5 separate regions of the Homo sapiens genome follow, and all the other regions are linked to region 2. Evidence: fine-mapped expression QTL. A gene starts in region 2. Each other region holds a variant in brackets. All regions are shown on one strand. Distances are from middle to middle.

Region 1 (6,012 bases), 60 kb after region 2:
GCAATAGACCCATTCCTGGGAGTTGACATTCAGTTAGAGGTTGCACGCATGCACAACACACACACACACACACACACACACACACACACACACACACACACGGTAGCACTTACTCTGTTTGCACAATAGTCCCTGACCCATCCACCCTTCTGTTGTCAGCCTTGAATTAGATTTGTTATTGTATTTTATTTGTTTTAATTATATGGAACACTTCGTGAACTTGTGCAGGGGCCATGCTAATCTTATCTATATAGTTCCAACTTTAGTATATGTGTTGCTGAAATGAGCACTCAAATTAGGTTTGATTACAGCAAAATTAAGGATTCCTTTCCATGAAGGACAGCACAGATAGAATTAACAGACAGACAACAGATGGGGAGAAGATATTTGCTGTTTAAAAGCAACAGGAGATTAATGGATAAAATATGCAAGAACATTCTGCAAAACAACAAGAAAAAGACCCAACAGGAAAATGAGCAAAGCATATGCATAGGCAATTCTTAGGAGAAGAAACTGAAAAGGCTGGCAAGTAAGTATGTGAAGAGATGCTGGGATCCCAGATTCATTAGTAATCGGAGAAATGGAAATGACAACAATGACATAGGATACACACATGTCAGATTGGCAAAAATCAGCTGTATGATGCCAAGTGTTGGCTAGAATAAGCAGAAGGAGGAACCATTGTGTGCCGCTGCTGGGAGTCCTGCTAGATGGATGCAGGCGCTTTGGAGAGCCACCTAGTAGCATTTAGCCAAATCTTGTCTGTGCCCACACTGTCCCAGTAAGCCCATTCTTGGGTATAACCTCAAGAAATTCTCCTGCAGGCCCACAAAGGGACTGAGTATCTTGTGGCTGCTGTAACAAAATATCACAAACTCAATGGCTCAAAACAACAGAAATGTATTCTCTGATACTTCTGGAGTCAAGAGGTCCAAAATCAGTATCCTTTGGCCGAACCCCAGATGTCAGCAGGGCTATGCTCTCTCAGGAGGTTCTGGGGGGTCTCCACTCCTTGCTTCTTCCAGCTTCTGGTGGCTGCCAGCCTTCCCTGGTCTGCGGCTGCATCGCTTTGATGTTCAAGGCCAGCATCTTCGAATCTCTCCGCTCCCTCTTCACTCTGCCTTCTCTGTGTGAGTGTCAAATCTACCTCTGCTTCTCTTTTATAAGGATATAAGAGTAGTGGGCTGAATAATGTCCCCCCAAATTCACATTCACTTAGAACCTCAGAAAGTGACCTTATTTGGAAATAGGGTCTTTGAAGATGTAATTTGTTAAGATGAGGTCATACTGGAGTAGGAGGGGCCCTTAATCCAATTTCTGCTGTCCTTATAAGAGGACAAAAGGACAGAGAGACAGGGAAGACCATGTGAAGACGAGGCAGAGGTTGGAGTGATGCTGCCACAAACCAAGGAACACCTGAGTCCACTAGAATCCGGAAGAGGCAAGGAGGGGATTCGGAGGCACTGTGGCCCTCCTGACACCTTGATTTCAGACTTCTGGCCTCCAGAACAGTGAGAGAGTAGATTTCTATTGTCTTAAGCCACCAAATTTGTGGTACAGTACTTTGTTACAGCAACCACAGAAAACCAATACAACATGTGACTTCCTTTCCAGCCCACCCTGATAACCCAGGATAATCTCCCCATCTCAAAATCCTCAACACGATCACATCCGCAAAGACCCTTTTTCCATATAAGGCAACATTCACAGACTCCAAGCATTAGGACCTGATACCTTTGGGGTCCATCTTGAGCCTGCTATAGGGACCCATGCAAGGATGTTTATTGTACAGAGCCTGTGCTAGGACAGAATTGGAGGCAATCCAGGTGTCCACCACTGGGGAAAAATAGAAGCAAATGAGTGGTTACAAGCAACTCAGGAACACACAGCAGCATGGACAGTTAACACACACAGGGCTCAGTGGAAAAGCACCCAGTAAGAGACTGAACACACTCTCCAGGCCACTACCACTTATGTTTACTGAAAACACACACACACACACACACACACACACACACACACACACCCCTCTACACAGTTTGACAGAGCACACACTTGAGTGGTTGCCACTGAGGGGAGGAGCATTAGAGTGGAAAACAGTAATTAAAAAGACTGGAGAGATGGATAGATTGATTCAGCCAGAGAAGAATCTCACAGACCAATGATGGTGAGATCATGAATTGAGAAGCAACATTACCTGAAAGCCAAACAAACAAACAAACAAACAAACAAATGGAAAGAAAAAGTCTGTGAGAGGTCCTTTCTGGGGAAAGCTGGCCACCTCTGCAAGTGCCTGGTGTGTTTTGCATAAAGACACATGGTCCCCCAGCCTGGGCAACACAGCAGGTAACAACTTGTCTCTACAAAAAAAAAAAAAAAAAATTAATTATCTGGGCATAGACCGGGCGTGGTGGCTCACACCTGTAATCCCAGCACTTTGGGAGGGTGACGCAGGTGGATCACCTGAGGTCAGGAGTTCGAGACCAGCCTGGTCAAGATCGCGAAACCTCATTTCTACTCAAAATTAGCTGGGCGTGGTGGAGCGCGACTATAGTCCCAGCTACTCCAGAGGCTGAGACAGGAGAATTGCTTGAACCTGGGAGGCGGAGGTTGCAGTGAGCAGAGATCGTGCCATTGCACTCCAGCCTAGGCGACAGAGCAAGACTCCGTCTCGGGGAAAAAAAAAAAAAAAATCCGGGCATGGCAATACATGCCTGAAGTCCCAGCTACCCAGGAGGCTGAGGTGGGAGGATCTCTTGAACCTGGGAGGTCGAGGCTACAGTGAGCCATGATGGTGCCACTGCACTCCAGTGTGGGCGACAGAGCCACGCCTGTCTCAAAAAATAAATAAACAAATATAAATAAATAAATAATAAATAAATTAAAAAGACACATTGTTCCTTCAGTTGGAGCAGCAGTGGGTGGCAGCTAGGGACCTTCATCCTTCCCTACTGTTTGGGGAGGGTGGAACCATGTGGCCT[G/C]CAGAATGGAGAGAGGACATCCTCCCTAGCAACACCAAGGAACAAAGGAAGCCACACTAATGCCATTTGCTGTTGCCTGCCAGTTGTGTTCCATCTGCTGCACTGAGTGTTCCCTCCCAGCAGCCTTGAGCAGCCAGCTGGCATTGTTGGCTCATCCACTGGTCTTAGTTAGGCTTCCCATTATTTGATTCATTCTTGGAACACACCCTGGCCTTCCTCTTTCCGGATGCAATACTTCTCTCAGTGCCACTTGGTCAAGTAGCAGGGATGAGGCCAGTGGCCCTGGAAATAGGCATCTAAACGGTCGCGAATTCGGAATCAGCTTGGTAAACGGTCAGTCATTTTTAACCCCTGGAGAGGGTTTGGATCTTGTTTGTTTAATGCCCCATTGGGTTCCTCATAGTTCCTTGTAAAGTTCCCTTTGAAAATGCCGTCCTACCATGTACGGTGGCTCACGTCTGTAATTCCAGCACTTTGGGAGGCCAAGGCGGGAGGATTATTTGAGGTCAGGAGTTCAAGACCAGCCTGGCCAACATAGTGAAACCCCATCTCCACTAAAAATACAAAAATTAGCCAGGCATGGTGGCACACGCCTGTAATCCCAGCTACCCGGAAGGCTGAGGCACGAGAATGGTTTGAACCCGGGAGGTGGAGGTTGCAGTGAGCCGAGATCACGCCACTGCACTCCAGCCTGGGCGACAGAGTGAGACTCCATCAAAAAAAGAAAGGAAGGAAGGAAGGAAGGAAGGAAGGAAGGAAGGAAGGAAGGAGAAAATGCCATCCTATCTTGACTATGCTTGGGAAGGAAAGAGAACCTGACTTTTAATGTCTTGTCTGTTAGTACCAAGGCCAGAGGGAAAAGGGGAGTAATATTTTATTATAACCTTTTCTTTATCCTCCACAAAGGCCTTTTAGCAGAACTGACCTTAAATGTTTTAAAATCTAACAACAACAAGAAAAATGTGATGTGGCATTCACCTGTGCTCTTATCTGGGCTCTTCTTGATCCACTTAGGGATTCATATTTCCGGGTTCACCGACAGCTGGTTAACTTTGCTATTCATTCCTGCCCACCTCCTCACACCCACTGTTGCAGTCATACCCACGAGACTCAATTTGCAAATACAGGTGAGGAATCAGGCAGTAATTTTTCATCTCCGAAGATGCCTTAACAGCCTGCTCCAGGTCTGTGCTCTTCATGAGCAAATACTTCATTTGAGCCTCGCCATATTTGACACAGCTGGCAGTCCCTGTTCAAAACTGGAACTAGTGCTAAAAACAAAATTCATATAGAGACAGCAACGTATTCTTAGTTGTTTGCTTGGGAGACAGGGATTTGGCCAAACCAGGCAAGGGAAGATGAGAGAGCAGGCAGGAGTAACTTGCCTTGTTTTCCTCCCCATAAGTGTTCCTTGCTGCCTGCTAAGGGAGGCCTTCAGCCAATCACTCAGCCCCTAGAGGCTCAAGTTATTCATCTGTACAATGAGGTTGAAACTAGACAAGTGTTTTCACACTCTGTTGGTGGAAGGTCCTGGGAGGTGCTTCAGGAGCCACCATTGAGGGGATTTAGCAGGTGGGGATCTGGACCTCCTTTTTCAATCATCACTCCTCTGTTTGCATCTGTTGTTTCTATAGGCAATGATTTCATTTGAAAAGTAATTGATTTCGGTGCTAAGAAAATCATTAGAGACTGAGCATGGTGGTTCATGCCTGTAATCCCAACACTTTGGGAGGCCGAGGAGGATTGCTTGAGCCCAGGAGTTTGAGACCAGCCTGGGTAGCATACTGGGACCCTGTCTTTACTAAAAACAAAACAAAATTAGCTGGGCACGGTGGTGCCCAACTGTGGTCCCAGCTACTTGGGAGGCTGAGGTGGGAGGATTGCTTCAGCCTGGGAGGTCGAGGCTGCAGTGAGCCATGATTGCATCACTGTACTTCAGCCTGGGCAACAGAGGGAGAGCCTGTCTCAAAAACAAACAAACAAACAAACAAAGGAAAAAGCCCATACCTTGGACTAGATGAACTCTAAGGACTCTGTGTTAGTTTCCTGGGCTGCCATAACAAAGTACTACAAACTAGGGGGCTTTGAACAACAGGAATATTTAGCCTTTCACGGTTCTGGAGGCCGGAAGTCTAAAATCAGTATCTCTGGGTTGAAACCAAGGTGCTGGCAGGGCCCTGTTTCCTCTGGAAGCTCAAAGGGAGAATCCATTCCTTGTCTCTTCCAGCTTCTGGCAACTTCCTGCATTTCTTGGCTTAAGGATGCATCACTCTGATCTTTAAGACCAGCATCTTCAAATCTGTCTCTGCTCCAGCTTCACATCACCTTCTCATCTGTGCATCAAATCTTTCTCTGCCTCCCTCATAAGGATATACGTGGTTGCATGTAGGACCTACCCAGATAATCCAGAATAGTGTCCCCATCTCAAAATCCTAAACATGATCACATGTACATAAACCTCATTTTATTTATTTATTTATTTTTGCCATTTAAATTAACATTATTGTGGGTAATAAGAGAGAGAGGAAACAAAACAAGTAAGTTAACACTTACAGGTTTTGGTGATTAGAATGTGGATCTCTACTGGGGGACCAGTTTGTAGCCTACCACAGGCCCTTTCAAAAATCAGGTTCTAAGATCCCCTTTCCCCCAAATAATTCCTATCTCAGTAGCTTTCTATACATTCTTATGTCTTAAAGAACCTAAAAGAAGACCGGGTACGGTAGCTCACGCTTATAATCCCAGCACTTTGGGAGGTCAAGGTGGGTGGATCATGAGGTCAGGAGTTCAAGACCAGCCTGGCCAACATGGTGAAACCCCTGTCTCCACTAAAAACAAAAAAATTAGCTGGGCGTGGTGGCAGGTGCTGGTAATCCCAGGTACTCGGGAGGCTGAGGCAGAGAATTGCTCAAACCTGGGAGGCGGAGGTCGCAGTGAGCCGAGATCACACCACTGCACTCCAGCCTGGACAACAGAGTGAGACTCTGTCTAAAAACAAACAAACAAACAAAAAAACCAAAAAACAAACAAA
Region 2 (6,012 bases):
TCATCTGAGAAGTGGGTTACCAAACAGTTACCTGTAAGACTCTATGTAAAAGGGCCACTATGGACATCAGGAGGTGATATGGGTCACAGTGCCAACAGGTCGGGGTAATGTGGCGAGGCAGAGGGCCTGGCATATAGGTGTTCCAGAAATGAAGCTCCTGTTAAGATTACTACCCATCCACATCACTGACAGTCTTCTCCTTGCTGCTCAAAAGAACAGCTTCCCATTTCTGGAGGCACATACAGGCAGCATACCTGTCCTCAGAGGACTTTTTGGAACTAGTAAAATACACAGCAGACTGAAAAGCCCTCTGTAATTAGAACAAAGATAACTTGTTAACCGCCCTTTAAACTCCTGGGAGCCTAAAGCCAGCCTCTACTTGCTACTTGCTAGAGCCTGGAAGGATTTCTCAGATTATGCAGAGTTGCTTCTGTGTGCTTTCTGAGGTCTGCCAGGGTTACTCAGCCACATCCCACTACTGAGGACCAGGACCAAGAATAAAGTGGCTCTCAGCAGGCCTACCCAAAATGCCACTCCAGGGCCCAAGAAGAGCCAACTGGTGCCTAACTGAGGCACTTGCTTTGTGTTTGTCATTTTGACGCAGCAGCTCTGAGACTACCAGGATCCCAGAGAAGACCACCAATGCAAAAATCGTATTATCTTATTTTGGACAAAAGATCCAGAAAACTGTTGGCTGGGCACGGTGGCTCACACCTGTAATCCCAGCACTTTGGGAGGCCGAGGCAGGTGGATCATGAGGTCACGGGATAGAGACCATCCTGGCTAACATGGTGAAACTCTGTCTGTACTAAAAATACAAAAAGTTAGCCGGTGTGGTGGCTGGCGCCTGTAGTCCCAGCTACTCAGGAGGTTGACGCAGGAGAATGGCGTGAACCCAGGAGGTGGAGCTTGTAGTGAGCCGAGATCGCGCCACTGCACTCTAGTCTGGGCGACATAGCAAGACTCTGTTTCCAAAAAAAAAAAAAAAAAAAAGATCCAGAAAACTGGGCCCTTATCTTGAAACCAAAGCTGCTTCTGGTTTCAGTTAATTAATTTAAACAATAAGCTGGGCGTGGTGGCTCACGCCTGTAATCCCAGAACTTTGGGAGGCCGAGGCGGGCGGATCACGAGGTCAGGAGTTCGAGACCAGCCTGGCCAACACAGTGAAACCCCATCTCTACTAAAAATACAAAAATTAGCCGGGCATGGTGGCGCATGCCTGTAGTCCCAGCTACTTGGGAGCCTGAGGCAGGAGAATTGCTTGAACCCAGGAGGCGAAGGTTGCGGTGAGCCGAGATCAGGCCACTGCACTCCAGCCTGAGCAACAGAGCTAGACTCCGTCTCAAAAAAATTAATTAATTAATTAAAAATAATTTAAACAATAAAAGATAACTGGGTAGCAGTCTTATCTGGGTTGAATCCTGGCTCTATGTCTTCTGAGCTATATGACCAGGGCCCCCTCATCTGAAAGCCAGTGATAATATCTAGCCTGCAAAATTGTCGAGGCAATTTAAAGCAATATATGTGAAGTGCCTGGCACACAGGAAGAACTCAGGAGATGGTAGCTGGTAGCAAGGCTGTAGATCTAAGCCTGGTCCCCTCAAAACACCTTTGTGATTGTCAGGCATCATATGGATGATCAAACAAGTTCGGGGAACTCATTTTCCCATGGTCCCTAAGTAGTCGAAGTGGGGTACCTCCAGGTGCAAGGGCATATGCCTAGGGCTTAAAGGCAGTGACTGCGCAGTCAGACAAGCCTTGCATCAAATCATAATTCTGGCAATCGCTGTGTGACCTAAGGCAAGTTACTTCACCTCTCTGTGCCTCTGTTTCCTCATCTATAAAACAGATGTACTGTTTCTGTCTCCTCTACCACCTCTTAAATCAACAATTGTAACGTGCAAATCTGAGACCCAATCATTTCTATTCCCCACCTTCTCAACGGGCACACCATGTTGAAGACTTTCAGAAGACAGCTTTGAAGGGAGTATCATTTTTCTAACTTTTTTTGTGCTTCTACTTTCAAGATTTCCATGTCATTAGATGCAAGTCAATCAAATGATCATACATTTTCCTACAAATGCATTGTAAACAAAATAAAAATTTTATCCCAAAGGGAAAATGAAAAAGAAAATTCAACAACTCTTTACCCCTGTAACTTCCTTTATTTTTCTCCATAGCACTGACAATATATATAGATTTCAATGTTGGGCTTGTTTTCTGCCCGGACCAGGATGTAAGCTCCATGAAGACAGTCTCAATTTTGTTCACTACCGCATCATCAGTTCCTAGAACAGAGCCTGGCACCTCTGCAGAATGTTAAATGGCTCTTCGTGAATCAACTCCAGGTGGGTTGCCCACATGAAAAACATTTCTGCATCTTTTGCAAAAGTGGCTTGGCTAGTACCATCCACTGTTTTCCAGTGTTCCTTTATGTGACATAAATCTTACTAGAACTCAGTACTAGGACAAAGTGTGTGTGTGTGTGTGTGTGTGTGTGTGTTTCCTGAGCTCACATATTTTCCACCAGCTGGGTTCGCTTCTATTGTCAGGAAGCTTGGAGCATAATTCACGTTCAATTACAGTGTTTCCCTTAATCCCTTTTTCTGATGGGGACATAGGATATAAATAAGTGTAAGAAGATTCTGTTGGTACATGTTTAAGACCCTATTTTTAACCACAGACTGCATTTATTCTACTAAGATGCTTCTCAAACTTGAATGTGCCAGAGAATCACCCGCGGATCTAGTTGAAATGCAGAATCAGACTCAGTAGGTCGGGGGCGGGGCGTGAGATGCTGCAGTTCTTACAAGCTCCCAGGTGATGCCTATGCGGCTGGGCCCTGGACCACATTTTGAGTAGCAGAGGGTCTAAGAAACGTGCTTCCTTGATTCAGCGGGATTTCTCTCTCCTGCTCCTTGGCAAAACATGACCAAAGTCTCAAAAACTGAAGCGGACGGCAGAAGCACCTAGAGAGCTGGTTAGACCTACGCCTCGCTGACCCCCCCCCCCCCCCCCCACAGCCCATGCCCGCTGTGATCCCGATGAAAGGGGCTAGGAATCCACCTAGGAAGTTCCCCAGGTGCTTCTGCTGTCGGTGGCCTCGCAGCAAATTTCGAAAATGACTGCTCTCTTCAAGGTTTTCTCAAAGGTAAACTCTTGGGGACAGCTGTTGTCACCAGTGGTACACCTGCTCGTTCAGGATTTTAGGGGGCCCATCCCGCTGTTTCCAGCCCAGCGTCAGGAGGGGACCCACCCCTCCTCTCCGGCTACTCCGACCGCGGCGGAGTCAACCCCCACGGGCCCGGGGCTCGGACCCCCGCCGCTCCGCCTCGCACAGCCGGGCCGGCCGGTGGCAGCCACCGCAGGCCCGAGAGGCGGGGACCGTGCCGCTCATGCGCAGAGCGACCCCTGGGCCCACAAGGCGGGGTCCCCGCGCGGTCCCCGCGCGCCCCCCGCCCGCCTTACCTCGCTGGACCAGGGTGGCCAAGGAGAAAGCGAGGCAGACAAGGAACGCCGAGCGCCAGGCCACCATGGCTGGGAGCAGGCGGAGGGCCCCGGAGGAGCACAGTTAGCGCGAGAGCGCCCGAAGGGGAGGCCGAGGAGGAGCGGGAGGAGGAGCCCCGCCGCCTCTGCAGGGTCCCGCCCAAAGCCCGCGCGCGCGCGCGGCGCGGCCCCGGGAAGATGGAGGTCGGGCGCGCTAGAGAGCCGGCGCCTGAGGGCGCCTGGGCTGGGGTTAGGCCGGGGGGCGGGGCGAGGCTGCAGTATCGGGGGCGGGGCCGCGTTCTGGAGGCGGGGCTCCGGGCGAGGGGCGTGGCCTGCGGGCACCCGGTGGGTGGGGAGGCCTGGGTTGGGTTGGGCTGGGTCCAGCGGCAGCGCGCGGTCCGCAGACCCTGTCCCACCTCGGTCCTCGAGACCGAAGTCTCGGAGGTGGCCCCGCGGACCTGGAGCAGTGAGTCACCAGTGCCGGGGAGCGGGAGGCGGCAGCGCCGGTGGGCGCCGATTTCCTCCCGGGTGACCTTGAGAAGGGCTCTTCCCCTTCTGGCCTTGGTGTTCTCCCGGTGAAGGGTTGTTCCCTTGGGGCCCCTCCAGACACCGTCCAGCACGGAGCCCCGCACTCTGTCCCCACCCGCTGTTCCCTGCAGGAGTGAAACCCTGGCCGGAGACTGAAGAAAAGGACCGTTTTCGTGACTGGCTGCGGTCAACAAGCAGTGACACGTCTCGAGAAAACGAGGCCGGGGGCGCCCGGGTGGGCGACAGGGGAGGATGGGGGCGTCCCGGAGCCGAAGCGCCGCGGGCTCGGGAGACTGGGGGTAGGGACTGGGTCAGCTCTCCCGAGGCTTTGATGAATGCGCTGAAAGTGCAAGTTCATATCTGCAGAGTCGATCTCAAAAACGTGCTTAATGACCGACAAACGCGCTGCAGTCCTTTCCCATGAACCCCCGCAAACGGAGTCCGTCTCCCAGACCCGAAGAAATCAGATTCCGATACGATACTGTGCCGACCAGCAAAATGCCCGCTGCAGCAGTTGATGGGAACGCTCCCTAGAAGAGCCCCAGCTGCAACCGGCTCTCGAAGACAAAGAGGAAGCGCTACTGCTCTCCGGAGTGGTAGCGTGAGCCTGTCCCTGCCATTATGCGGCACCGGCTGCCCAGGGCCACATCCTCCTTAGAGGGCGGCTACTACCACCTCCCCTCAATATCCATTCGGCAGCTTTCCTGTGCCCCCAACCCAGCCCTCGCTGCCATAGGCACCCCCCTCAGTGGCTCCCACCAACCCCTAAGGAACAGTGGGGTGTGGGGTCTCCCTGAGATGGAGCCGAAATCTCCCGTGTGGCTTACATCCATTGCCCTGAATCTTAGGGCTGCAGAAACAAAACAGCATATGAGGAGTGGATCTTCCCAGGCTCAGGGCATTAATTACTCTATGAATGGAACATTATTCCATTCTAGCTGTAGAATTAACAGAAATAGCTGGTAGTTATTGAACACACACTATACACATGGCATATTCCAGGCATTTTACCCTTAATTTTTATTCCTCACAATGCCTTATGTATCATCACCTATTAACGAGGGAAAAGCAGCAAAATGGAGGTTCCTTGAGGTTGGGGAGTTAGCCAGGTCTAGTCTCATGTGTCAAAGGGGGAGGGTACCACTAGGAACCCCAGCTGGTGAATGGCTAAGAATGTGTGCTGTAGAGCCAGACCGGGTACAAATCCTGGCTAAACCCAACAAGGTTGTGCTAAGGATTAAATGAGGTGGTGAAAAGTGGACAGCCTGCACACAGTGACAGAGGGCAGGGACCATTACTGGTTAATCTAGTAACGGCTAAGGAAATAGTGGCCACTGTGAGGTCAGGAGGTTACTGTCTATTCCAGGCTGTGGACATGCCCCCACCTTTGCTACTAAGTGCCCTGAGCCATTCCATAGGCCCTGGTGGTACCATCTGTACCTGGAGGGCAGTAGATTTTCTGGTCTTTAGGAGTCTTCCAGGATCTGATGGGTAAACCCTGATGCATACACACTCATCTACACTGAGGAGGTGAGAAGCATGTAACCTCTTAAGTTTGAGGCCATGTCAATCAATATGCAGTGGACAGTCACACTCAACTGGAACTCTAGCTGCTAAAGGTGCTACAATGCCATATGCAATAAGACTGTCTTCTAGCTCAAGAATAGTTCTCAAACTACACCCCGTGGGCTAAATCCTACTCCCACCTGTTTGTTCAGCCTTCCAGCTAAAAGTAGTGGTTGCATTTTTAAATGGTTGAAAAAAATCAAAAGAATGTTATGACATGAGAAAGTGATACAACATTCAAATTTCAGGGTTCATGAAGTTTATGAGAACACAGCCACGCCCATTGATTTTTGTATTCCCTATGGTGGCTTTTGTGCTGCCACAGTGGAGTTGAACAGTTGTGATAGAGACCATGGGGCACACAAAGCCTAAAATATTTACTGTCTAACCCTTACAGAAAAAGTTTACTGACCTCCGTTCTAGCAGATTGAA
Region 3 (6,012 bases), 49 kb before region 2:
TACCTCAGTTTCCTCATCTATAAAATGGAGATAACAAGAGACCCTACTGCAGTGAGTTAATGTGAGGATTAAATAATCATTATATATAAAGCATTTAGCACAATATGTGACATAGGAATCCCTCAAATGTTAGCTAATATTATTATTAAATTTGGTATTAAGTAGAATCCACTAGTAAGTAGAAGGCCTTCAATAAATATGCATGAGTAAATGGCTTATAAGAGAATCATTAAAATGTTCAAAAGCTTAATGGATGAAGAGAGAAAAAAGCCACACTCTAATCTAAACTCACCCAGTGCTTGATAAGCCTTTAGATTCTACTGATACGACATAAGTTTGGGAAACTGAGGCACAAGAATGTAAGTGATTTGGACAAGGCCACCCCAAATCAGTCTGTTGACTAATAACAAATGCACATGGTATTTCCTTCCCCTGAAGGCAGCATAAACACCAATGGATCCTGTGTACTTTCTTAAGTCAGGTAAGAATCTATGTCTAGTTGGTGTTGCATGTATGAACATTTCCAAATCAGAGCCAGGCAGAGTGGAACAGGACCTCAGAAATCATCAAGATTTTCAGCCTTGCCATCTGGCCAGGCCAATGCAGAGGGAGAAAGGCGCTGAGCACGAGGCACCTCCTACCCTGTATCCCCAACCCAGACCTTTGTCCTCAATTCCAATCCTGCAGGTCCTGCTACCCAGGGGAGATTTCCATAGCACCTCCAAGGAAGCATGTCCTGAATTGGACTCTGTCTTCCCTTGTGCTAGTAATCCTGGTCCAGCTATCCTTGTGCTAGTAATACCCAGTCTTAACTACTGTTGTGTTGTAGTAAGTTTTGAAATGGGGAAGTGTGAGTCTACCAACTTTGTGCCTGTTTTTCAAGCTTGTTTGGCTATTTTGGGTCCCTTGGATTTCTGTATGAATTTTAGGATCAGCTTGTCAATTTCTGCAAAAAGACAGCTGGGATTCTGATAGGGATTGTGTTGAATCTGTAGTTCAATTTGGGAAGTATCATTCCATCTATTTTTAAACATGCTCAAATCTCTCCCATTTTAACTAGAAAACCCTCTTTTGACTGTACATCCCCATCTTGATACTGCTTTCTCTCCCACCCCTTCATAACCAAACTCATAAAATGACTATCTATCCTTGCTGTATCTGCTTGCTCCCTCTCAAATCACTCCTCAGTATCTCACAGCCAGCTCCCACTCAGAATCCACAAAACTAAATGCCAAGCCCTGGCTCTCCAACCTAGACCCTTTTCCTGAGTTCCCTGTTTGTTTCACTGAATGGCACAGCCACCCACTGCATTGTCCAAGCCAGAAAGCTGTACACTGTCCCGACATCTTCTCCTTCATTCTCCATAGCCACCCTGTCACCAAGAACTGTCAATTCCACCCCCAGCACATGCACAAAGCCCACCACTTTTCCACTGCCACTACCAAGCCAGGCAGCGATCATCTTTCCCCTGGACAGCCACAAGCACCATCCTCCTGCTCCTTCCAGGTCTATGCTCCATCCAATCCATTCTCCACACAGCAGGCAGGGAGTCCTCCTTTTTCCTTTTTAAACAAACTTCAAGGCACATCACTTCCCTGCTCAAAACTCCCAAAGGCCTCCTCACTACACTGAATATAAGCTCCATATGCCTAACTATGGCCTGCAGGCCCCCCCCCCCTTGTACTATACCTCTCACAGTATTACATAAATTATATTATTTGTTTTCAAATAATGTGTGTCCACTGTGAAAATCTTAGAAAATGCAGAAAAGAAGAAATAAAATAACGGCAAGTGGTTAACAATATGGGTGAACCTTGAAAACATTATGCTAAGTGTAATAAGTCAATCACAAGAAGGCAAATACTATATTCCCATTTTATGAGGTCCCTAGAGTAGTCAAATTCACAGAGATAGATGGTAGAATGATGACTGCCAGGGGCTGGGGAGAGTGGGAGATGGGAAATTGCTTAATGATTAGAGGTTCAGTTTTGCAAGATAAAAAAGTTATGGAGATTGGTTGTACAACAATGTGAACACCCTTAACACCACTAACAATACACTTAGAAATCATCTAAGATGGTAAGTATTATGTGGGTTCTTTTTCCACAATTTAAAAAAAAAAAAAAAAACAGCAAGTGATGCTTTTTAAAAATCAAAATTCAGAAAGACAAAGCCAATTATCTCAAGGCATGTTAACTTTGGACAGAATCTGAAATATCATCTAATTGACCATCCCTAAAATGCAGCAAAGTAATCTCCAGTGTATAATAGAGGTTCTCAGCCAGGGAGGATGAGCTGACCAACCTCAGAAACCTCCTCCCCCTCAGAATTCACTGGGCTGGGGACCCAGGCATGTGCTTTGGAAGTACATTCATTCGTTGGAAGAGTCACGTTTTTGGAAAGTTTTTTGTGTTGACCCCAAAACTGGCCAGTAGATTACCCTGGCACTACAAAGAATAAGTTTGTCCCCTGCTGTCGTATGCTCCTTTAGACATGTGGATCCCGTGCTAAGGGTCACTGGCTACCCGCACCAGGAGATCCTGTCTCCCCACCACAACCTCCACTTCAACCACTTCCTCCCTTTGACTTGTGCAACTTTTCTCCATGAACTTGTCCATGTGCGTCATACTGC[C/T]GGGAAACAGCTTGCTCAAATTCCCTTCCCAAATATACCTAATGGCAGACTGTGGCCTCTATCAACAATCACACTCAAATTCAACACCTGTGTACACAGTTAGGCGATGAAGCCCCAACAGCCGTTGGCACTTCTGTGGTGCTTTGTAAACACTGACTAAGCAATCTGGTGAGCAGCGTCAAAAACAGAATGAGGCCAGGCACGGTGGCTCATGACTGTAATCTCAGCACATTGGGAGGCCAAGGCAGGATGATTGCTTGAGCCCAGGAGTTTGAGACCAGCCTGAGCAACATAGTGAGACCCTGTCCCTATAAAATTTTTAAAAAATTAAAAATTAGCTGGGTATGGTAGTACATGCCTGTAGTCCCAGCTACTTGGGAGGCTGAGGCAGGAGGATTACTTGAGCCAGCCAGGGTGACAGGGTGAGACTCCATCTCTACAAAAAGTTTTTTAAAATTAGCCAAGTGTGGTGGCATACACCTGTAGTCCCAGCTACTCAGCAGGCTGAGGTGGGAGGATTGCTTGAGCCCAGGAGGTTGAGGCTGCAGTGAGCCATGACCGCACCACTGCGCTCCAGCCTGGGAGACAGAGGTAGACTCTGTCTCAAATTGAAACTATACAAAACAAAACACAGAATGAGCTAGCCCTTGTATATCAGTACATCCTGCTCCATAACCTTCTGAAGCCAGCTTGTCATGGAAGCAGGCAATCAGTCTGGCTCATTCCACACCACAAATCTTCCAAGTGAGTAAGAACCCACTGATTCCTGCATCTGTAGAAAATGGGAGATAGGATGTATGACAACTTCAAGGAACATTACTAGGCCCACATCTGCTTGATCTGGCCAACTAAATCCCTAAGCCAGTTCTATATAATATAAATTAAATAAGCATTTAATACTACGCAAAATAAAATTACAGCTATTCAGCTGACCTTTCCCCTTTTCCACTCTGTATTTGTGCCTGTTTACAAGCCCAGTGGGGAAGGTATGCCAAGAATAGAGATGTTCTGAGGACACAACAAGCCAATTAAAACAACAAAACAAAACAAAAAACTAGAAATGACAAATATCCTGCAAGTCTAGATTGTTGAACATGCCTGATCAGGTTGGAGAGGGAAGCAGGAGGAGCCCAAAGAAAGTCTCCTGTATGTCCTAAAGTGGAATCTAGCTTGCCTACTTTCTAAGCCACATTCCAGCCCACATGTGTCCCTTAAGACATGAACCAAGCCAGGCTTGGCAGCAGGCACCTCACCATTAAGGCCAGCTCAGCAGTGGCCATGCTCACCACTCAGAGCCCAGCAACTTAGTAGACCACGTTTATCCCCCAGTTTCACAGAACACATGCCCCTGACAGGGATCCCAAATTTCCCATCCCTACCTAGAACATGTAGGCACCAGCGGACGTGCACATAGAAACAAATATTACACCAGAGGGCTACCCATGTTGCAACAAAGTGATTCTCACAGAGATAAATGTTGCAACAAAGTGATAGAAACACAGTACAACAAAGTGATACTCCATAGAAACAAATGTTGCAACAAAGGATGATCTTATTTGTGTGAAGGACTAATATTTCCTATTCCATTTTATCTCATTCAATATGCTAGTTGCAACTCAACTACTTGCACAGGCCACTGATGGGTTGAGCCCCAGGTGCAACAACATTGTACAGATGCTGCCTAAGAAGTGAGGTGTTTCTTGTATCACAGCCAATCCAGGACTGAAGAAACTCTCTAACCAGGAGTACTTTTTTTTCTTTCTTTTTTTTTTGTTTTTTGAGATGAAGTCTCGCTCTGTCACCCAGACAGAAGTGCAGTGGCACGATCTCAGCTCACCGCAACCTCTGCCTCCCGGGTTCAAGTGATTCTCCTGCCTCAGCCTCCCAAGAAGCTGGGATTACAGGCACGTGCCACGGCACGCGGCTAATTTTTTGTATTTTTAGTAGAGACAGGGTTTCACCATGTTGGCCAGGCTAGTCTTGAACTCCTGACCTCAGGTAATCTGCCTGCCTCGGCCTCCCAAAGTGCTAGGATTATAGGTGTGAGCCACCGCACCCAGCCTACCATGAGTATTTTCTAACCAAATGTGAAAGCCCTCCCCTCCAAGTCAAGACATCTGAATCCTTCACTTGATTCTGTGCCTTCGAACTTGGGCAAATTGCTCCCATCTTCTTCCTCCCTTTTCCCATTCTGTAGAAGGAAGGGATGGGATTAGATAATATAGGACAACATCCACTTATTGAGGACCTAGCAAGGAGCAGCTGCCATGTCAGACACATGGCATCAACACTTCAGTGGTTTGTGAGCTGGCATGGTGCCGATGAGCAGCCTCTTTCACCAATGAGGAGCTGAGGCTCAGATAGATGCAGCAGCACGGGGTCATGCAGCTGGACAGGTCTGATTCCCCCACACATGCCTGCCCCTAAGGTGCTCTAAAAGTAAAGTGCTATGATGAGACAGCTGTATTTTCTATTGGTGCTATAACAAATTCCCACATAGTGGCTCAAAACAGGACAATTTTATGACCTTGCAGTTCCAGAGATCAGAAGTCTAAAATGGGTGGCCCTGGGTTAAAACCGGGGCACCAGCAGGCTGTGTTCCTTCTGAAGCTTCCAATCCATTTCCTTGCCTTTGCCAGCTTCTGGAGGTCACCTGCATTCCTTACTTAGCTCATGGCTCTTTCTCCATTTTCAAAGTATATCACTCCAAACCCTGCTTCTATAATCACATCTACCTCCCTCTTTGACATATCAGGCCCCCTTTGATCACATTGGGCCCACTTGGATAATCCAGGACAATTTCCCATCTTAAGATCCATAACTTAGCCCTATTTGAAAGTCCCGTTTGCCATGTAACGTCACATATTCACAGGTCCCAGAGATTAGGATGTGGACCTCTGAGCAGGGAGGGAACATTAGTCTACTGACCACAACAGCCAATAACCATCATCTGTTTTACTGTTTCAAGCATTTAAATTGTTCACTACTGCTTGGATGAAAGAACTCTTCTCCACATCATTACTCCAGAGTGAAAATCCACTTTATGCTGGGTAGTTAAGGAAGGTGTGCCAGGGTGGTGAACTTACACTAAAAGGGGCCAACTCTGGAGTTGCAGAAGTGCATTTGGCCAAAACAACATTTTTAGAAGTTCGCTCTGTTGTGTGGAGACTTGTTTGTAGGAGGCCAGTTGGGGAGCTGTGGTTGTTTTCCAAACCTGTAAGGACAATGGCTGAGCACAGGATGACAGCTCCCCATCACACCCTGGACCTCTGGACTTCACTTGGTTGCTAAACTTCAGCAGGCTCTATCCCACCTCAGGGCCCTCAGGGGTCCCTCTGCCCGGAAGACTCCTCCCATCTCTTCCCTTCACTAAATTCTGC
Region 4 (6,012 bases), 130 kb before region 2:
GATCAGTCCCCATTTCTTCCTCAGGGCCCTGGCACTGAACCCCAGCCCCTGTCCCAGAGCCTCCCCTCTGGGTCCCACCCCAGAAGCCACGCACACCTCCTTCCGCCCAGCTTTATCTTTCCTTGAGCTGTGACTTCACCCAGCATGTGCTCAGAGTTGTTACAAATTTTCTCTGCCAAATTAAGCTGATAGAGATTGGCCACTTTCAACCAGTCCTTTCAGTCCACTGTGTCTCCCCTCTCGCTTGGGACAGGCCCATGCTGGCCAGTGCAACCTTCAGATAGACACATGGTGACCAGAGCCCGCCAGGCTTCTGCAGGTGGCAGTGTCGAGCAAGTGTAAGATGTCTGTGGGAAGGAGAAGCTCCTGAAATGAACGTTCTGCAAACAGAAGGCTGAGGGGTCTTCCAGGCATGTCCAGTCACTAGGAGCTGCCACCGGTGGGCTTGAGTGCCAGGCTCTAGGCTTTGTGCAGAAAGCACCCGGGGCGGGGGGCGGTAAGGGAGAGCAAAATGGGTCTCTCTCAACTGCAGTCAGTGCTCCTGGGAACACGGTCTCACAGACAGCACATATTCTACGTCACAGCTCTAGGGTTTCAAGGACTTAGCCATCCGACAGGCCTCACCATAAAGGTAAAGTGGACAACCCCTGAGGTCACGCTGTCCAGGTGGCGACAGGCCACGCATGCCAAAATCCTCCATAGCCACCTCCGGCCCAGCACCAGCCAGAGGGTGGGGCCATCGGTTCTCGACATACTTGGTATCAGGGAGGGACAAGCCTGACAAAGTTCACAATCTGGCCAATGAGTGTGGGAGGCCCTGGAAACAGGCCAATCCTGCAAGCCACCCCACCCTTACTAACTTCCTGAAGCATGGGAAGCTTCTCGAGACCAGGCCAAGGTTTCTTTCCTTCATGGCACCACGCAGAGGCATTTCTGCAGTGCTGCAGGTCCCCCTTCAGCCACACAGTCCAGGTCTGTCAGGGATTAAAGGGCCGAGCAGGAAAAGGGGTGGTAAGGAGCTCAAGGGCACGCACTGGGAATGGCCTCACAAGGCAGCCTTGAGACGCACAGGGCTACAACTGACCACCCTCCACCACAGGCATGTTTGCAAAACGAACACGAGGCATGCGTTAGACAGATGCATGTGGGGGCTGCAGATTCCAGTGGTTTCCTTAAGAAACTGGAGTTGGCTCATCCCACTCAGCAGACAATCCCGCTCAGTGGACAGCCTATGAAACGCATGGGGCCATCATGCAGACCAAAGAGGCCCGTGAGTTTTGTAAGATCCTGCCTGTCTGGTGACTCATATCTGCTTTCAGAAGTGCTTTCTGACACAGCAAACTGACTATCAGTAGACAGGGGCCCTAGACCCTAGCATGTGGTTCTGTCCCGTGAGCCTCTGACAACAGAGCTCACCGGGACAGAACCATATGTGGGCCAAAGGAACATTCCAGGAAACCAGCTCTGCTCCAGCCCAAACCAGGCAGCTCCACGCCAGGTGAGGGGCGAGTCATGGGGTTCCTGTGTTTGCCACGGTGAGCATGGCTCCCCACGCACTCTCCCTCAGAGCAGACAAGTAGGCTGACCACAGAGCTACAAAGTCACCTGCGTTTCACTAAACCAAGCGAATGTCTCTTTCCCCTCTCCTCCCCCGCCGCCCCCAATTACATTTTTAAGCAAACAAGCAGGATTCTGGCTTTGATGCTCGTTCTTGACATCGGTCACTCTTGCTACCAAAACAGGGACACAGGGTGGAGGGTGAGCACCTCTCCCCAACACAGGATAAAACTCATCTCCGGTGCAGAAATGATTGCTAAAGACCTTTCTCATGTCAACCCGAAGGCCACACCCAGCCCCCTATGGAATCAGATGGGAAACAGGCCTACGAATTGCTTCATACTTATCCGGAAGATTCCTAAGCTCTCAAGGCAGGACTATCACGAGATGCATGTTTGTACTTAAATCACTGAAAGCCTCCGCTTGGACCGGCTCTCCGGAAGCCCAGCAACATAAAACCTGGGATGGGGAAGACTGAAGTGAAACCATCATCCTGGGTGCTGCGTGTGTGTGGTGTTACTTGGTGCTGACCGGTTCGCTCCTTGCAGGGGCTCCAAGTGGGTGCAGGCTGAGCCCCCCACCTGCAGCTCCTTGAGGCCACTGTCAGGGGCTGTCTATTGGCAGAAACCTGCCACAATGAGCCACTCCAGTGTGCAGGGGTCACAGTCCCTTGAGTTCAAACTCTTGTCCCCTAAGCATAAATGTCATCAGGCCTCAGCATCATCTTGGCCCCCGCATCCTGTGCTCAGTAAAGCTGGAGGCAGGCTGGCTTTGGGAGTTGGTGGCTCAGCAGCTCCCGAGGCTGGTGCTGGCTTTCTATCAGAGCTGGCTCTTGAATTTCGGCACCAAGTCTCAGCACGCTTGGGGCAGGGCAGAGAAACCAAACTCACAAACACCCAGAGCTCATCCGGGAAACTCAGACCAACAAGGAGCCGATGGCACAGAGCAGCACAGCAGCTG[C/T]GGGTCCAAATGAAGGGGTGGGGGGAGCCGGGTGACAAGCGGTGGCACCATTGTGCATGCCTGCAGCTGGACAGGGCCCTCAGATCCGGGCTGGTTCGGGCGGCGGCGGCGGCTCTGCAGACTGCGTGTGCAACGTGGAGTATTTCACTAGGGGAAAAAGAGGCCGTCAGAAGGAATTCTGCTCTGTCTTGCACAGAAGAAGCAAATACAGCAGCAAGCCCGTGCTGGGAACAGAACTGGGTTTCCCTTTGTATCCCCTGGGGGGCCGCTTAGCAACCTTCCCTCCTGAGCCTGGGAGCAGTTTTGGGCCGGTCAAGGGGAGAGAAAGAGAAAGCTGGACAGGCTCTGGAAACAGCTCAGCCTCCATCTCCTCACCTAAAAAATGAGCGTGTTCCTGCCAGCGCTGCTGGAAGGGTTATTTTAAACAAAGGGCTCAACCTAGCACCTGCCCACACAGATGCTGGCCTCGTGGTGGCTAACCGTGGCAAAGCTCATGACAGTGGATGCGACAGCGGAATCCATTTTTCCACATCTGAACCCAGGCCTATTTTAGTTCATTTGGTGCAGCACTGCCACCCGTCTTCAGCAGCATTGTAGGGCACCTGGCTCCCAGTACACACCACACAGGCTGAGCCCCTCCTGGTCTCCCAGGCCCAGTCCCCACGGCTGCTGCACTGTAGTTCCACTGGCAACACTCGCCTGAGCTGTCCTAGTCTCCCTGCCTGCGCCACCAGGCCTCGGCTGCTCCCCGACCCCAGCAAGCCTTTCCGGACCTCCTCATTGGCATCCCGTGGGCACAGGTCATATCTGCCTCGAGCAGTTGGGCACTCTAGGCCTGTGGCCTGAACTTATGCGACCTCAAATTGCCAACAGCTCCTGAATCCAGAAAGTGCTTGATGACCACAGAAGGGGGAGGGAGGGGCACAGGTGTTGACAATAGGGTCTGGGTTTTACCCAAGTTCCCTCTTGCCTGTGGCAATTTGCAAAGGGAAAAGTTCTAGGTCTAGGTGAAAAGCTTCCCCATGGCTCTGTTCAGGATGTAATTGTATTCGCTGATGGGGAGCAGAGGTGCCTGGGGCTCTGGCTCGGACGGACGAATCAAGGGCAGGGGCCGAGCAGCCGCAATGCCCAGAAGTCACAGGCATGGCAGCAGATGGCCCTGGCTGTCACCCCAGCATCTTTGGGCTCCTGAAACTGGGAGGCAGGCTCATCAGGGCAGGCTTTTGCTCTGGCCGGACATTCTAGAAGCAGACGCCTCTGTGCTTCCCTGCTTCTCTAGCACAGTTCTGCTCAGTGCTGGGACCAACTAGGAAAGCGTCAGCAAGGGACAGTGAGTACAAAGTTCTCACCTTGGGGTTCCTCACATACCACGGCTTCCAGGTTCTCTCCCTTCACGTAGTCTGCGTTGAGACCCTCTGCAAAGGGAAAAGGGCAGAGTTAGTGATGCGCACAGGACCTAAGGGTCCCCAATCGTGACTGAGAACTCCTGACCAAGTCCTCTGCAGCTAAAAAAGCAGCACAGCTCCCCTGGGGAACTCAAAACCCTGCACCCTGAGCCACCTGAACATCCTTATCCGGATGAAGACTGTTCGTCCCAGAATTCACTGCCCAGGAGTTCTCATCATCGTCCTCAGAAATAACAACGACATGCAGCGAAGGCTTCCGGCACTCCATCCTCATAGGGCAGCTGCCACCGCGTCAAGACGGCAGCTCCGCCCAGTGGAGGGGGCGCCCGATGGCAGGGCTCAGCACCATCCACAGGTCCGTGTGCGTGTGCGGCCCGGGGGCCAGGGAGCCAATCGCTATGAGTGATTGATGGATGCAGGGCAGGGAGGGGCGGATGGCTGAGTGGGGCTCAGCATGTAGATGCAGCAAAGCCTCCTGCCAACATGCAGCCTCCCAGCAACACCCGCGCGGAGGCCAACTGCTCCTCCCAGCAGCAGGAATAACCGCTGTGTCCACCTGAGCTTGGAGGGGCCAGCCCACCAGCAGCTGCTTCAGTCTAGTTAGTTATCTAGGCTTTCTCTACACCTGTTACAAGAGGGATTCGGGGACTGTACCAAGCATTCCCTCCCGCCAGCAAGGGCCAGTGTTCAAGTTCTTAGAGTGGACCCCACCCCTGCTGCTGCTTGCAGAGAGTCAAGAGTCTGTGTCTCATCCCTGCGTAGCACAGGGACTGGAACCCTTCAGCCCCGGGTCTGTGGGAAAACTGGGGCATGGTTCCAACCGACCGACCGACCGACCAGGCACCAGTGCAAGTCAAGCCATCGTCCTGGGCTACAGGCTCCTTGCCTAAACAAGAATGCCCACCACCTGCCTGCCCCGGTGGCTGCTGGGCTTGAGGTGGGAGCCAAATGGGCCTGTGGCAAATGCGGGCGTTGCTCTTTGGCAGGTGTGGCCGGCCCCACGCAGAGCGGGGCAGGTGATGAGTGCAGTGGAAGCTGCCCCAGGTGCACCTTCCCAGCTGACAGGTGGGGGCCAGGAGACACACCCTGAGCCTCGTGATCACTGCTAGCTGCCAACCCAGTGGGCGCTGGATCGTCTCCTTCCTGTGGGTGGCCCTCTATGTGCTCCCCAGGCATGACCACCAGTGGGCACCTGAGTCCTCACCATGGCACCTCAACTCTCCCCCCACCCCTGCCACATCCAGCCTGGGGACAGAGTGTCTGGCAGGTGGCATCCTCTCACACGCATCAGGGTAAGCTAAAGATGGTCCTGGTTACAGCCACGTCGGTGAGTGCCAGGGAAGCAGGAGGGAGAAGAGCGGCAAGGAAGCGCCAGAGCAGGGGGCGAATGAGGAAGCATCAAGGCTGAAGCAAAAGGAAAGTGAGGAAGGCAAAGCAGCGTTACCTTGACCTGCTGCTGCATCTGAAGGCAAGACACAAAGCTTAGAATCCCTGGAGTAAGAGCGCTCCTGACAGCAAACATGCGGGCTTTCCACACTGAGGGCAAAGGCAAGGGAAGCCAAGGGTCCCCAGCATGGGCCTTTTGGCAGCAGCAGAGGCCGAGAGCACCTGAGGGCCACAGTGGTGGGGGCAGGCCTTCCTCGCAGCCACCTCCTGCTGTCTCCCCAGAGCTTGGTGTTCTGCACCCCGGTCCCCTCTACCGCCATCTCCATGTGGCAGTGGCTGAGACTCAGGGGAAAGAGTGGGGACAGGAGGCCCAACCCCCAGCTTCTCAGTGTTTTCAGCCACCCCACAAACGTCTGCGGGACTCCTCCTGATTCTGGCCCGGGCCAGGTGCCAGGGACATGATGTACACGCAGCCCCGCCACGGAATGGACGGTCCAGAGACTCCTGATCACGGAGGGGGCAAGGCGAGCTGGGAGTCGCACACTCAGAAACCAACCGGCCCAATCCCGCCCCATGAGCACCAGGTGAGGTCAGCAGGGGGCGCTGTAGGACCACAGGCTGGGAGAGGCTGCTCCAGGCCTGCAGGGCGAGAGGAGCTAGGTCAGGACGGGGGACAGCAGAGGCCCGGGATGGGGATGGAAGA
Region 5 (6,012 bases), 22 kb after region 2:
GCTAAGTAGGTGGGAAGAGAAGGAGGCACAATAAGAGACATCTGGGTTATTACTATGGTTTCAGGACTTTTACTCTCCAAAACCCGTGTTGAAATATAATCCCCAGTGTGGCAGCATTGAGAGGTGGGGCCTTTAAGAGATGATTGTGTCATGAGGGCTCTGCCCTCATGAGTGGACTAATCCATTCATGGTTTAATGGATTAATGGGTTATCACAGGAGTGGAACTGGTGGCTTTATAAGAAAAGGAAGAGAGACCTGAGTGAGCATGCTCAGCCCCCTCGACATGTGATGTCCTTTGCCACCTCAGTACTCTGCAGAATCCCCGCCGGCAAGAAGTCCCTGACCAGATGCAGCCCCTCAACCTTGGACGTTTCAGCCTCCACAACTGTAAGAAATAAATTCCTTTTCCTTATAAATTACCCAGTTTGGGGTATTCTGTTATAAACAACAGAAAACGGGCTAAGAGAGTTAGAGATGCTTCCTGAATCACAACAGAAAGTTCTGTACATCTTTTATCCCTATACCCTCTGAGGAGCTTATTCTGCTCTAGACGGACAGAGGTGATATCCCACTCATCTCCTGGTCAGCTCACAGTGCCTGGATGCATGTCATGTTCTGGGTACCAGTAGCCTCTCTGAGAGACATTAACAGGCTGGATTTGCTTCAGGAGCCAGTGATCAGGATGTTAAAGGGAAGTTAGAATTTTCTTTTCTTTTCTTTTCTTTCTTTTTCTTTTTTTTTTTTTTTTTGAGATAGAGTCTCTCTCTGTCACCCAGGCCGGACTGCAGTGGTGTGATCTTGGCTCACTGCAACCTCTGCCACCCAGGTTCAAGCGATTTTCCTGCCTCAGCCTCCCGAGTAACTGGGACTACAGGCATGCACCACCACGTCCAGTTAATTTTTGCGTTTTTAGTAGAGATGTGGTTTCATCATGTTGGCCAGGCTGGTCTTGAACTCCTGACCTCTAGCAATCTGCCCGCCTTGGCCTCCCAAAGTGCTAGGATTACAGGTGTGAGCCACTGCACCTGACCTATGGAAGTCGGAATTTTCATACAATGAATAATCTTGGTGAGTGTTTGGACCGGAGAAAAAGATGACTGTAAGGGGTAAAAAGGAAAGGAGTGATGAGGGAGACTCCTGGAGGGAGCTCCTGGGGAATTTGATCTGTATTCTGTGGCCTCAGCTTATGAAAATAAGGATAAAGGGGAAAAGCTACAGGGTGATGGACTCTGGAACTTTCTTGTTTTAAAAGAGACAGAGTCTCACCCTGTCACCCAGGCTGGAGTGTAGTGGTATGATCATAGCTCACTGTAGACACAAACTTTCGGACTCAGGTAATCCTCCTGCCTTAGCCCCCCAAGTAGCTAGAACGATAGATACATGCCACCCCACCCAGCTAATTTTTTTAATTTTTATTTTTGTAGAGATGAGTCTTACTATGTTGCCCAGGCTGGTCTCTAACTGCTGGCCTCAAGTGATCCTCCCCGCCTTGGCCTTCCAAAGTGCTGGGATTAGAGGCATGAGCCACCATGCCTGCCTGGCTGGATTCGGGAACTTCCTAAGGGGCAGAACAACCTCAAGATGGAGGAGCTGCCTCTGTAGGAAGGGAGTTCCCATTCTTCAAGATATCCAGCCTAGTCTCCCTTTGAGGTCCTTTTCAACCTAGAGGCCCCATGACTCTCCTCCCGCATGAGGGTTGAGCCAGGATAATATGGAAAGTCTGGGTTCCAAAACTGCTAGAGAAAAGCAAAAAGAGGTTTGGCAGGTCCTTTGGTTAGCCCCACATTTGAGACACACCTCTGAGGCTCTGCCACGTCCCACCCATGGCTGAACGGAATCATACACAGATTTTTCTGCCCACCTTTCCACACTCACCCTGTGATCCAGAGCTCAGAGAGTGAGACTGAGAGAGCTCATGCCAGGAGCTTTTAGTTGTCAAGAAAAGGAGTCATCGTGTCTTTAGAAACAGGATGAATGCGGAAAGCATACACACTGAAACGATTTCTAAGATTCTATATAGATCAAGGCCAGGGTCTAGCTGCTGAATTGGGGCCTAGCCTATCCTTTCCAGACAACACAATTCTAAAGTGCATTTCTCTCTTTTTTTTTAAAATTTATTATTATTATACTTTAAGTTTTAGGGTACATGTGTAAAGTGCATTTCTCAACACACCCCTTCATCTCTTGAAAATGAAATGCTGCCGGCCGCGGTGGCTCACGCCTGTAATGCCAGCACTTTGGGAGGCTGAGGTGGGCGGATCACGAGGTCAGGAGTTCGAGACCAGTCTGACGAACACAGGGAAACCCCTTCTCTGCTAAAAATACAAAACAAAATTAGCCGGGTTTGGTGGCGGGCACCTGTAATTCCAGCTACTCAAGAGGCTGAGGCAAGAGAATCACTTGAACCCAGGAGGCGGAGGTTGCAGTGAGCTGAGATAGCGCCACTGTACTCAAGCCTGGGCAATAGAGCGAGACTCTGTCTCAAAGAAAAAAAAAAAGAAAAGAAACAAGAAAAAGAAAATGAAATGTAATCCATGTCCTTGCAGGTTCTTCATCAGATCTGCATTGAGAGCTACATGAGAGGCTTTCCAAGCACAGCACAATAGAGCAGGGGCCTCCCTCAGTGTAATCTGCTTCAGCCCCCATGTTTAAAGAGGAAGGGACTGAGGCCCAGAAATGGGGAACAACTTGTCCAAGGTCACACAGGAAGGCAGTGGCAACATAAACCAGGCCTTGTGCCTTCACATGGGCTCAGTGCCATTGCAGCATTGCAGGCAGTGTGACTTACCCTGCTGTGGCTTTTCAGTGGCCCCCTGGGGGCCACACCTGCCACCCTGTTCTCCCTGCTAAAAGGTCTTTTCCTTTGTACCAGGTACTTCTGTCAAGTCCAAATCAAGCAGAATGGGTTCCAACCAGCAGCAGGGTTTTCACTTGTAAGCAAACCACAGAAGGGATCAGCCACCAACCCAACAGATGAACAACTTGACTTGCTTTCCAATGGAGCCCAGCATTTGAAGCTGTGATAATTGTCAGTTTAAATGTTAGTAAGTGAATGCTTGTAATTTACAAGTGAAGCTGCTTCTCTTATCAAGGGTCCCATTTCCTGTGGGCTGTTTGGAAGTATAAACTGTTATCAGAGGATTTGTGCTTATTTGAGGCTTGGCTTGCCCATCTGGTCAGAGAGAGAAAGTCTGGAGAGTATGCTGAGTCTAATTCTGCTGTACCCCATGACGAGCCTGTCCTGTTCAACATTCCACTTGCGGTCCATGAATCAAGCGCTATTCATGGGCACAGAACAGAATGAACCAACCTAAACCATTTCGCTTGCTTGACATTCTCTAAATCCCACTCCCCCCTTTAAACGCACAAGCTCAGGGCCTGTTTCAAAGGGCAAATATTGTGAAAATGAAGAAATT[A/G]TTACAGATTATACTTGGAAAGAGTTCAAATGTTGTTGAAATACCGTGATCTGTAGGTGGCATGTCTTCAAAGAGATTCATTTGAATAGATCAGGCTGAGGAACAGTCAATAGCAAAATAGTTATTTGTGTATCAAGTATGGACAAATTCTCACATACCAGGAGGCTGCGAGACAGCACTTTCACAAGCTGATTTTAGATTTTGGCCCAACAGCTCTAAAGGCAAAGGCTTTCTAGGCTAAAGGGATGATTAGAAAGATAATAGACAAAGTCAACTCCAGATGTACCAGTTGACCACCCCTCTGCCAACTGAAACCCTACTCTTGGGTTGATTTCACAGCTCAGGAGGGGAGCTCAAACTCAAACTTGTCAATTTTGTGACTCAATAACAGACCCACTTTGGGGTGGGAGAAAAATGGAAGTATGAGCTAAAAAGGAGATTCTTTCAATTGCCTTTGCCCTTCTGTTTTCTAGGCTGTCTATGTCCTCCAACAGCTCAGAGACTCAGAGTTGATGCGCTGGATTCTACTGCAAGTTGCGTCTTGATAAACATAGTTACTATGTGAGCCAGCAAATTCCATTTCTAGATATATACCCAAGAGAAATAAAAACTCATGTTCACAGGAATGCTTGTACACAAATGATCATAGCAGCATCATTCATAATAGCCAAAGTGGGAGCAAACCAAATGTCCATCAAGCAATGGATGGATAAACAAAATGTGATCCAGTCATACAATGGAATATTATTCAGCCATTAAAAGAAATGAAATACTGATCTGTGCTCAAACATGGATGGACCTTGAAAACATTAGGCTAAATGGAAAATGCCAGACACAGAAGATAGGACACATAATCAGACACATGTTGTATGATTCCATTTATATGAAATGTACAGAATGGGCAAATCCACAGAGACAGAAAGCAGATGAATGGTTTCCAGGGGCTGGGGGGAGAGGGATGAAGAATGACTCCTTAATGGGTGCAGGGTTTCTTGTAGGGTGAAGAAAATATTCTAAAATTGATTTTATAATGGTGATTGCCCAACTCTGTGAATGTACTAGAAACCACAGGTAGTACATTTTAAAATGGTTAAGTGGTAAATGTCTTTTTTAAACATTTTATTATCACTATATATATCATAAAAGTTATTATTTTGACCACTATTAAGTATGCAATTCATTGACATTAAGTACATTTACAATATTGTGCAACTGTCACCACCATCCATCTCCAGAACTTTCTCATCATCCTAAACTGCAACTCCATACCCATTAAATACTTGCTATTACTCCCTCCCTTCCCCCAGCCCCTGGAGATTTGTTTTGTTTTGTTTTGTTTTGAGATGGCATCTCAGTCTGTCACCCAGGTTGGAGTGCAGCAGTGCAACCTCAGCTCACTGCAACCTCTGCCTCCAGGGTTCAAGCAATTCTCCTGCCTCAGCCTCCCGAGTAGCTGGGATTACAGGTATGCGCCATCACACCCAGCTAATTTTTGTATTTTTAGTAGAGATGGGTTTTTGCCATGTTGGCCAGGCTGGTCTCGAACTCCTGACCTCAGGCAAGCTGCCCGCCTTGGCCTCCCAAAAAAAAAAAGTGCTGGGATTACAGGCGTGAGTCACCGCCCCCAGACCCCACTGGAGATTTCTAATCTATTTGCTCTCAATGATTTTGACTATTCTAGGTACTTTATATAAGTGGAATCAAACAATATTTGGCCTTTTGTGTCCGGTTTATTTCACTTAGCATAATGTTTTCAAAGTTCATTTGTCGGCCAAGTGTGGTGGGTCACGCCTGTAACCCCAGCACTTTAGGAGGCTGAGGCAAGTGGATCACTTGAGCTCAGGAGTTTGAGACCAGACTGGGCAATATGGCGAAATCTCATCTCTACAAAAACAAACAAATGGACAAAAAATTACCCGGATATGATGGCATGCACCTGTAGTCCCACCTACTTGGGAGGCTGAGATGGGGGGATTGCTTCAACCTGGGACGTCAAGGCTACAGTGAGCAGAGATGGCACCACTGTACTCCAGCATGGGTGACAGAGCAAGACCCTGTCTTTTTTTTTCTTTTTTTAAGAGGGAGTCTCACTCTGTTGCCAGGCTGAAGTGCAGTGGCATGATCTCGGCTCACTGCAACCTCCGCCTCCCGGGTTCAAGCGATTCTCCTGCCTCAGCCTCCCGAGTAGCTGTGACTACAAGTGCACACCACCACACCCAGCTAATTTTTGTATTTTTAGTAGAGATGGGGTTTCACCATGTTGGCCAGGATGCTCTCGATCTCTTGACTTCGAGACCTGCCCGCCTCAGCCTCCCACCGTGCTGGGATTACAGGCGTGAGCCACCACACCTGACTCCAAGACCCTGTCTTAAAAACAAAATAAAATAAAAACAAAAACAAAAAACAAAGTTCATTCATGTTGTAGAATGGATTAAAATGTTAAATTTTATATTATGTGAGTTTTATCTCAATTTTAAAATGATTGGCTGGGCACAATGGCTCACGCCTGTAATCACAGCACTTTGAGAGGCTGAGGTGGGCAGATTGCTTAAGCTCAGGAGTTCAAGGCCAGCCTGGGCAACATAGTTAGACCTC

Alleles and levels. Positions count from the first base shown, and alleles are read on the strand shown. Sizes are in standard deviations (SD) of each study's normalised expression. Not every link is listed here.
In carriers of allele C in region 1, the expression in spleen of the gene that starts at base 3,615 in region 2 tends to be higher than with G alone (small effect, 0.15 SD a copy in GTEx).
For the expression in tibial nerve of the gene that starts at base 3,615 in region 2, allele G in region 5 goes with a higher level than allele A (small effect, 0.23 SD a copy in GTEx).

What was found.
Region 1: its variant is fine-mapped to the expression of CD99L2 in spleen (GTEx, PIP 0.98).
Region 3: its variant is fine-mapped to the expression of CD99L2 in nasal epithelium (TOPMed, PIP above 0.99).
Region 4: its variant is fine-mapped to the expression of CD99L2 in lung (TOPMed, PIP above 0.99). The same link has a PIP of 0.9 or more in caudate and pituitary.
Region 5: its variant is fine-mapped to the expression of CD99L2 in tibial nerve (GTEx, PIP above 0.99).

Annotation. Positions count from the first base shown.
Region 1 is chrX:150,955,298-150,961,309 of GRCh38, forward strand. It overlaps the pseudogene RNU6-383P. Among named protein-coding and RNA genes, the nearest start is that of HMGB3, 25 kb to the right of the region's middle. The variant G/C (reference allele first, on the strand shown) is at 2,982.
Region 2 is chrX:150,895,054-150,901,065 of GRCh38, forward strand. CD99L2 (CD99 molecule like 2) reads right to left here and starts at 3,615. Exons shown (of 11, transcript NM_031462.4): 1 at 3,469-3,615. The coding sequence starts at 3,535. RefSeq lists a silencer at 3,290-3,899.
Region 3 is chrX:150,846,445-150,852,456 of GRCh38, forward strand. All of the region lies in intron 1 of CD99L2 (CD99 molecule like 2), which reads right to left. Among named protein-coding and RNA genes, the nearest start is that of CD99L2, 49 kb to the right of the region's middle. The variant C/T (reference allele first, on the strand shown) is at 2,633.
Region 4 is chrX:150,766,438-150,772,449 of GRCh38, forward strand. It overlaps CD99L2 (CD99 molecule like 2), which reads right to left. Exons shown (of 11, transcript NM_031462.4): 10 at 3,867-3,932; 11 at 1-2,664. The coding sequence ends at 2,597. Among named protein-coding and RNA genes, the nearest start is that of MTMR1, 76 kb to the left of the region's middle. RefSeq lists a silencer at 1,251-1,360 and enhancers at 5,429-5,976, 5,977-6,012. The variant C/T (reference allele first, on the strand shown) is at 2,518.
Region 5 is chrX:150,916,896-150,922,907 of GRCh38, forward strand. LINC02927 (long intergenic non-protein coding RNA 2927) reads left to right here and starts at 307. Exons shown (of 3, transcript NR_186570.1): 1 at 307-388; 2 at 2,874-3,041; 3 at 3,891-4,043. The variant A/G (reference allele first, on the strand shown) is at 3,418.